2 linked regions of the Homo sapiens genome follow. The protein of the gene in region 2 purifies or fractionates together with the protein of the main gene of each other region. This does not show direct contact. Each region holds a gene or a part of one and is shown on either strand. Other genes may lie near its edges.

Evidence for each region. Proteins that work in one complex are often made in the same cells at the same time.
Region 1: the proteins of COL1A2 (region 2) and PAX3 purify together in Homo sapiens (affinity purification with mass spectrometry; one large-scale study listed by BioGRID and IntAct). This does not show direct contact.

Annotation. Positions count from the first base shown.
Region 1 is NC_000002.12:222,296,199-222,300,318, reverse strand, and holds the start of PAX3 (paired box protein Pax-3), read left to right. Parts: upstream 1-1,320; 5' UTR 1,321-1,703; coding exon 1,704-1,788; intron 1,789-1,945; exon of another isoform or gene 1,946-2,172; intron 2,173-3,105; coding exon 3,106-3,341; intron 3,342-4,120. UniProt on the Homo sapiens protein: Transcription factor that may regulate cell proliferation, migration and apoptosis. Involved in neural development and myogenesis. Transcriptional activator of MITF, acting synergistically with SOX10.
Region 2 is NC_000007.14:94,404,895-94,408,394, reverse strand, and holds part of COL1A2 (collagen alpha-2(I) chain precursor), read right to left. Parts: intron 3,197-3,500; coding exon 3,143-3,196; intron 2,723-3,142; coding exon 2,669-2,722; intron 2,146-2,668; coding exon 2,092-2,145; intron 549-2,091; coding exon 504-548; intron 213-503; coding exon 159-212; intron 60-158; coding exon 15-59; intron 1-14. UniProt on the Homo sapiens protein: Type I collagen is a member of group I collagen (fibrillar forming collagen).

The DNA of each region.
Region 1 (4,120 bases), on a different chromosome or scaffold from region 2:
TAAAAGGAAAAGGGGGAACTTGAAGCCCAGAAGTCATTGTTTCCTTTATTTCAAAGGGAAAAACCTGCCCGATTCTCATCCTTTTGATTGATTAAGGCCCTGAATACCTCGCGGCCCCGGAGTGACAGTCCCTGAATAGGCTCGAGCGAATAAAGCGCAGTGCAGAGCGCGGGGCTGGCACTCGGGGGTGTAAAGGAGGCGAGTTCGCTGGCACTTACCAAGTTATAAATAAAAGGCTATGCACAATGGTACCTTCTCTAAGGACAGACAGTCTTTACAACACTCCTGGCGTCATATCCTGCTGGGGACACTTCAGCTCCTAGCCAAGACTTCGTTCCTTTTATTTTTCCAGCAGTTTAGTCTGAATGCCATAATAAATTCCTGAGAACAAACGCTGAACCCGGGCAAAACTTTAACATACAGACACATCTCTGTCGACGCATCGGGGATCTATATGTAGAGATTTAGAACCGCAGCTTGCCAGAGCGGTTTTTACACCAAGAAGAGGAGCCAGGTTTTTTTCTGCACCCTCCCCCATACCCCCAGCCTTCAACTAACGAGTGCTTGGGCCTAGCGACGGCTGCCTGTGCTTCACATTAGCCCCGCTTGCGGACGGAGAAGACAAAAGAACATCAGCGCACCCTGGACTCCTCCCAGGAGGAGCCCCATCGGGAGGACCCCTTAACAAGCCTAGGCCAAGGGGCACTGACCACAGGAAGGAAAGCTAAATATGTCTGGGGCCCCAGATGCCTTCTTATTGGAATTGTGCCCCCTCCAGTGGCAGTAAGCCAAGAGAAATGAGAGCGAGACCTACAGGTAGAAAAAATGAGACATAGAGAGAGACACAGGAAATCACAAGAGGAATAGAGGCTGAGCGAGACACACACACAGAGGCACAGAAAGAGACAGAGAGGGAAATAGAAAGTCAAGGAAAGAGTGATCAGAGAAAGACACACACACACACACACACACACACACACACACACACACACACACACACAGAGTGACACAGACAGAGAGACAGAGACAGAGAGACAGGAACTTCTCCGCCCTCAGCAACTGCCATCTCCCTGGGGCTGTCTCTCTCAGTTTCCACCGGGCCAACCTTCTCTCCTGGGCAAGGGGCGCAGCGCGGGTCCCCCTCGGGGCCAGCAGAGGCCTCGGCACCACCAGAGATGGGAAGAGAAAGTGGTCGCTGTTGCCCAATCAGCGCGTGTCTCCGCCACCCGGGACGGTCTACCCGTCGGCCAATCGCAGCTCAGGGCTCCTGACCAAGCTTTGGGTAAAAGAACTAATAAATGCTCCCGAGCCCGGATCCCCGCACTCGGTGTCACCACAGGAGGAGACTCAGGCAGGCCGCGCTCCAGCCTCACCAGGCTCCCCGGCTCGCCGTGGCTCTCTGAGCCCCCTTTTCAGGGACCCCAGTCGCTGGAACATTTGCCCAGACTCGTACCAAACTTTTCCGCCCTGGGCTCGGGATCCTGGACTCCGGGGCCTCCCCGTCCTCCCCTTTCCCGGGTTCCAGCTCCGGCCTCTGGACTAGGAACCGACAGCCCCCCTCCCCGCGTCCCTCCCTCTCTCTCCAGCCGTTTTGGGGAGGGGCTCTCCACGCTCCGGATAGTTCCCGAGGGTCATCCGCGCCGCACTCGCCTTTCCGTTTCGCCTTCACCTGGATATAATTTCCGAGCGAAGCTGCCCCCAGGATGACCACGCTGGCCGGCGCTGTGCCCAGGATGATGCGGCCGGGCCCGGGGCAGAACTACCCGCGTAGCGGGTTCCCGCTGGAAGGTAAGGGAGGGCCTCAGCGCGCCGCCTGGATCCCAGGGCCTGGGACCGGCTGCCTCACCCCATCCCCAGGCTCCGCAGGCTCCTTTGGTGCTTCCAGGAAGCCCATTCCCTGGGCACCCCACACCCCAAGAAGCACCAGTCGGGGGCGAGGACCTACTCGATTTCCTTTCTGCAAATGGAGCGCGCTGCTCTCTGCAAATCCTGGCGGAGCTGGGCGGTCAGGCCTGCGGCGAGCCGGGGAGACTTGTCCCTGTTGTTTTGGAAATGCCGCGGTGGAGAAGGAGGTGAACCGGCTTCTGAGCGGCAGAAGCAACTTCTCCGCAATTTGTCCATTCGAAATTGTCTCGAAGTTGTCTCGAAATTGTCCCGGCTGCGCCCACACTTGTGAAACATATGTTAGTTCAGGAAGTATTTTTTTTTTTTTGCCCTGCAAAGTTGTGGTGGCTAACGCCGCGCCATTGTGATTGGAATTTTTAGAATAATTAAATAAATTAGAATTCTATGTATCTCAAATAGCATCTAGAAGTTTCTATAACTTGTTTAGGAATCGCCTTTCCGTCCACTTGAAGATTCTGGGAATCCCGGGGAGGCAGGAAGTCTTGCAAGCCTGAGCCGTTTTCAATGGTTTTCCAGGTTAGGGCGCCCCAGCAGAGATGCTCATCGCCCCCGCCACCCACTCCCTTCACACCCAGCCTAGAGTAGAATGTAACACCCAGAGCAAGAATGGGGGCTGGGGGCCCAGGAACAGCCCTGCCGCTGCTGTGGTCTCTGTCCCAAGATGTAACAGGTGACACAGGCACTGCTGCTTGGGCCTCCTTTCTGGACCCTCTTTGACCCTTGGCTGCTGCACTTTTGGCTAGAAACCCCAAGGGCTATCAGCTGGCCCAAGTCCCTTAGAAAGGGAGAGATCCCAATTGGACAGGGATCGGTGGGAGCAGAGTTCATCAAGGCCAGCTCCTGGGTGAACTTCTCTTCGCCAGGAGGCTGTTTCTAGAGCAAGCTAGACTCTCTACCAGCTGCAGGGTCTCCTAAGTTGCCACTCCCCGGGCCCGAAGGGGAAGACGCTTTCTCTGGGGAGAATTATTTTGCCCCATTTGCTGTCTTTACACAAGATTACATGCGCTATATTGCTGAATAATTTGAACAAATGTGATTGAAAGGAGGTCTGGGTCTGGGAGTCCGATGTCGAGCAGTTTCAGCGTCGGTGCTGTAACATGAGGATAGGACAGAAGACTGCGAAATTACGTGCTGCTGTTCTTTGCTTTTTATTTTCCTCCAGTGACTTTTCCCTTGCTTCTCTTTTTCACCTTCCCACAGTGTCCACTCCCCTCGGCCAGGGCCGCGTCAACCAGCTCGGCGGTGTTTTTATCAACGGCAGGCCGCTGCCCAACCACATCCGCCACAAGATCGTGGAGATGGCCCACCACGGCATCCGGCCCTGCGTCATCTCGCGCCAGCTGCGCGTGTCCCACGGCTGCGTCTCCAAGATCCTGTGCAGGTACCAGGAGACTGGCTCCATACGTCCTGGTGCCATCGGCGGCAGCAAGCCCAAGGTGAGCGGGCGGGCCTTGCCCTCCTGGCTCCCAGACTGTGGTCCCCTGTGTTGGGGAAGACCGGGCGGGGGGTAACGGCTGACATCTGGGGCTCTCCAATGAGTTATTTCTGAGGTTTGTGAAGGTGCGTAAAGGCGCGCGTGTGTGTGTGTACGTGTGCACGCGCCCTGGACACTTCTTGATGAACACTTAGGGAAAGCTCTTGCCTTTTTGCAAAGGAAAAATAACATCTGTTTTTTAAAGCCCATAAGCCTTGCAATCCTCATCAAATTATTTTAATGGATAAACACCTAAAGCAGGCAAGCTCTATGTGCCCACCTGTTGCCGATTTCTTCCCTAAGTGTCTTCCCGGCTCCCACCCATGGCACCGTCCTTTCCAAAACGAATGTAAGGAACTTCTTTAGGTTTTATAATGGTTTGTCTCCCAAACCCCGCCCTCAGTCTCCCCCAGTGCAAATTGTTTTCAATGAGTCAAATACTAGGGTGATCAGTTTTCTTTGTAATAAGCCAATGACTCCATTAAAAAAAAATAAGCAGTTTGGTGCTATCCTTAAATTATTTTTGGTTCTGTTTTTAAAAAGAAAGAGTCACACCAGCTAGGGCTGAGTGGGAGGGAATTACACAAGGTCTGTCTTTTCTTCTAGTTGCCACCGGGCAAAATCAAGAGGGTTATGGTAAACCGAAGACCTCCAAACACCCTCCTCTTCCTTCCCACCTACTGAAACACTTTCACAGCCTTTCTAAGAATCTTTGGAACCTTCTTCTTCTTTTTAAAAAAT
Region 2 (3,500 bases):
GTGTCAAAACTTACAGCAGGACCCACGGGACCCACACTTCCATCACTGCCACGGGCACCCTAAGAAGAAAATAAAGGGAAGATCAGGTGGAAACTTAAATGACAGCCATTAGAAGATTTTTTAAAAGGATGAAACTGAACAAAAATGGAAGCACTTACAGCTGGGCCAGGGGCACCAACACGTCCTCTCTCACCAGGAAGCCCACGGGCTCCCTAGAAGCAGAAATATTTTCAATAAAATCCAGAATGCTAATTTAAAAAAAGTCACAGGCATCATTTGCTTTGTTCAGTTTCCAACCTGTACAAGAATACACTAAAAATAAATAAGTTGCCTTCTAATTCCAACTAAACAGTAGTGGATTTCAATTAAGTATCAGAAGGCTATTAGAAAAACATCAAAGAATACAATGCTGAAGGATACAGTGATTAGCAAAAACATTAAAGAAGTTCCATCTCATAAAGAGTGTACACATTTAAATTTACAATGAAGTAGTCAATACTTACTGTTTGACCTGGAGTTCCATTTTCACCAGGGGCACCAGGTTCACCCTACATGGAGAAGGATTGAGTTTTTGTTCATTAAATATAACAATTATTTTTCCTGATAGTGCAATTTTACTCTATTTTTTTTACTTTGAACCATTCATATACTTCATAATATTTCTTACACATATAGATTGTTTTTCAATTATGCCAGACACACAGATTTTAAAATGTGCTAACATGAGTTTTTATTCAGATAGTACCACATATCCAGGTTCTAAGGAGATGTGGTTATTTGAGTGTACCTCCTCCCCAATTTCTCCCTTAGATTCAGGATATCAATTATATACTAGAAACAATATCATAAAAAGAGATGGCAAAGGATAAATTTGCTTTCAATGTAACCATATTTATCCTTTTTAAAGTTATTTTGAACACTCAGTGTTATCACTTTCATAAAATGTGCATGAAAAATTGAAGCTTCATGGTATTTTTTAGAGCCATCATATTTATTTCCAATCTATATTCTTATCCTGAGTAAAAACCAGGGTAGTAGTAGTAGTAGTAGTGGGATTTAATACTATGGCACATGTAAAAGAACTTTTTTTAAAGATAATCTGATTTAGATATAGGGGAAATATGGTTTAAGAGACCTCATAAGGACCCTTAATTTCCAGGATTCTATGTGAAGTCTATTCTTTGGGAATAAGCATTGAAGTGGCAAGGGGGGATCATTTCTAGCCTATGACTTTCTAACCTCTAGATGTGTGACTTTGGGCAAGTCAATTGCTCTCACGAAGCCTCAGTTTCCCACCTCTGCAAAATGAGGGGGTCTCCAAAGCTCCTTGCAGCTCTAACATTTTATGATACAGTGATTAGTAGTCTGAGCTGTTATATCGGGCTCTTGGGAGAATGAGTTTGACCTTATCCATTTGTGTGGCAGCTGGAAAGTTAGAATAGATTCTCCATATTCATGTTCATTTCTGGTCCCGCTAGTATTCGTTACTCATTAATTTGTAATTACGTTGGTATTCACTTTAATATCACATTATCTCCTTAATAGGAAAGAGAACATTTTATAGTTGAAAACGCTGTCAGAGAAGAGCCTAGCCAAGAGATAACACACTTCTGAGACTTTAATTACCTAATTAAAATTTTTTTGAGTGTGCACAGATAAATCACAGGAAAGAGGTTGAAAAGTGTATAGCGACATGAATGTACCTATCTAATTAGTGTGTGGCAAAGGAGAATTTACAGTTTAAAATAATACAGAGTGTCGTAATCTCTGATTATATGTTTATTTACTTTTATTTTGGCTGCAGAGATACACTGGAATTATAGAGGGAGGAAAGGAAATGGAACAAGAAACTATTAATATTATTTTTATCTCAATTGTTTAATAGATATTGAATTTTAATAAATATTAATAATTGACCTTTTTTCACAGACTCTCATAGTCCCCATCCTTGAGGGATTTGAAGTACAGGAAAGAAAAAAAATAAAAATACTTTTTGTAATATGGGTAGTCTTCAGTATAATATACTTTTTTGGAGGTCATGGGGAATTTCAATCAAGTGCTTAAAAACAGTGCTTCTAATTTAATATTTACCTTCACACCAGGAGCACCGGGCTGTCCCTTCAATCCATCCAGACCATTGTGTCCCTGAAAGGAAAGCCTTATTATAAAATGCTGTTCCATGATAGTGTTTGGTCAAATAAAAATTGTATTGTATATCTTTGCCATTAATCTCTCTTGGGTAAGTCTTGTCTGCTGCAGTAGAAAGAAGTCCAGTGTTCCAGGTCCCAGCAAACTCAGTCTATTGCCCTAGATAGGTCACTTAACTTTCTTGCCATTGAGAGAGAAGGATGGAGGACTAGGTGTTCTCTCACATCTTTTCCATCCTTAATAATTTTATGATTTTCAGACGGTTGTAAATACTCAATAAGTAATACATGTTCTATATAATTTTCTCTGTAGTGAGCCTGTTTTTTGGTAGCTATGAACAGACTGAAAAAATTGCACCCCACTTTACTTTCAAGAAATCTGACTCTTTAACTCTTTCTTCCCTTTGGCAAACTCCAGGGATTTGAAAGTGAGTATATGTCACCCAAGATTTTAAACATACTTGAGTTTTTTCCAAAAATTAATAGGCATTTTCTCTCTTCTGAGTAAAGAATGTGCTCACCCTAATGCCTTTGAAGCCAGGAAGTCCAGGAGTTCCAGGGAAACCACGAGCACCCTTAGAAAGAAATACAGAAGATGGTGAATAATGTTTTACCATAAATAAAAAGACAGTGACTTCTTCCCTCCAAAGTATTTATTCTCATCAAAGTTCAAGCTTTGAACCAAAGTCTAGTATACCTCTAAGCACAGAGTGACAAATTAACTTGCTCTAATGTGAGTAACTAATAATACGGTATTTGTAGAAAACACAATTTAGTTGCTTATGGTATGCTTGCTGTCATTTATATTCCATTATTTGCATGAATAAAATGTATATGCATTTTTTTTTAACTAGGCTTTTTTCTTTATTAGATGCCTTCGATTCATGTTATGAGTTTGGGTGACATCTATGTTGTCATTTAGATTGATGCTAGTTTTAGCAACTATCTTATAGGCCTATGATGTTTGTGCTATCTACCAATGTAAAAAGTCTCACCTGTGGTCCAACAACTCCTCTCTCACCAGGTCGTCCGGGTTTTCCAGGGTGACCCTAAACATGAAAACATTGTAGAGTCAACTTCTTCTTGGTAAACTATCAGACAAAATGGGGGAATCTTGGTTTTTACAAAAGGGGAGAAAGTTATCACATAAAAATATGGATCCAGATATATATTTAATCTTTCCCTTAATACAAGTAGGTTAGTTAATATTTCATTAAAATAATATTTCCCATACATTAAGAGTTCTGTCAGGCATATTCAGCTTTTGGCAGAATACTTAATTTGAATCTAGAAAATCTTGTTGAGGCAAGAGTATTTAAATAGCATTTTGAAAGTGCTTAAGAGTAAATACTT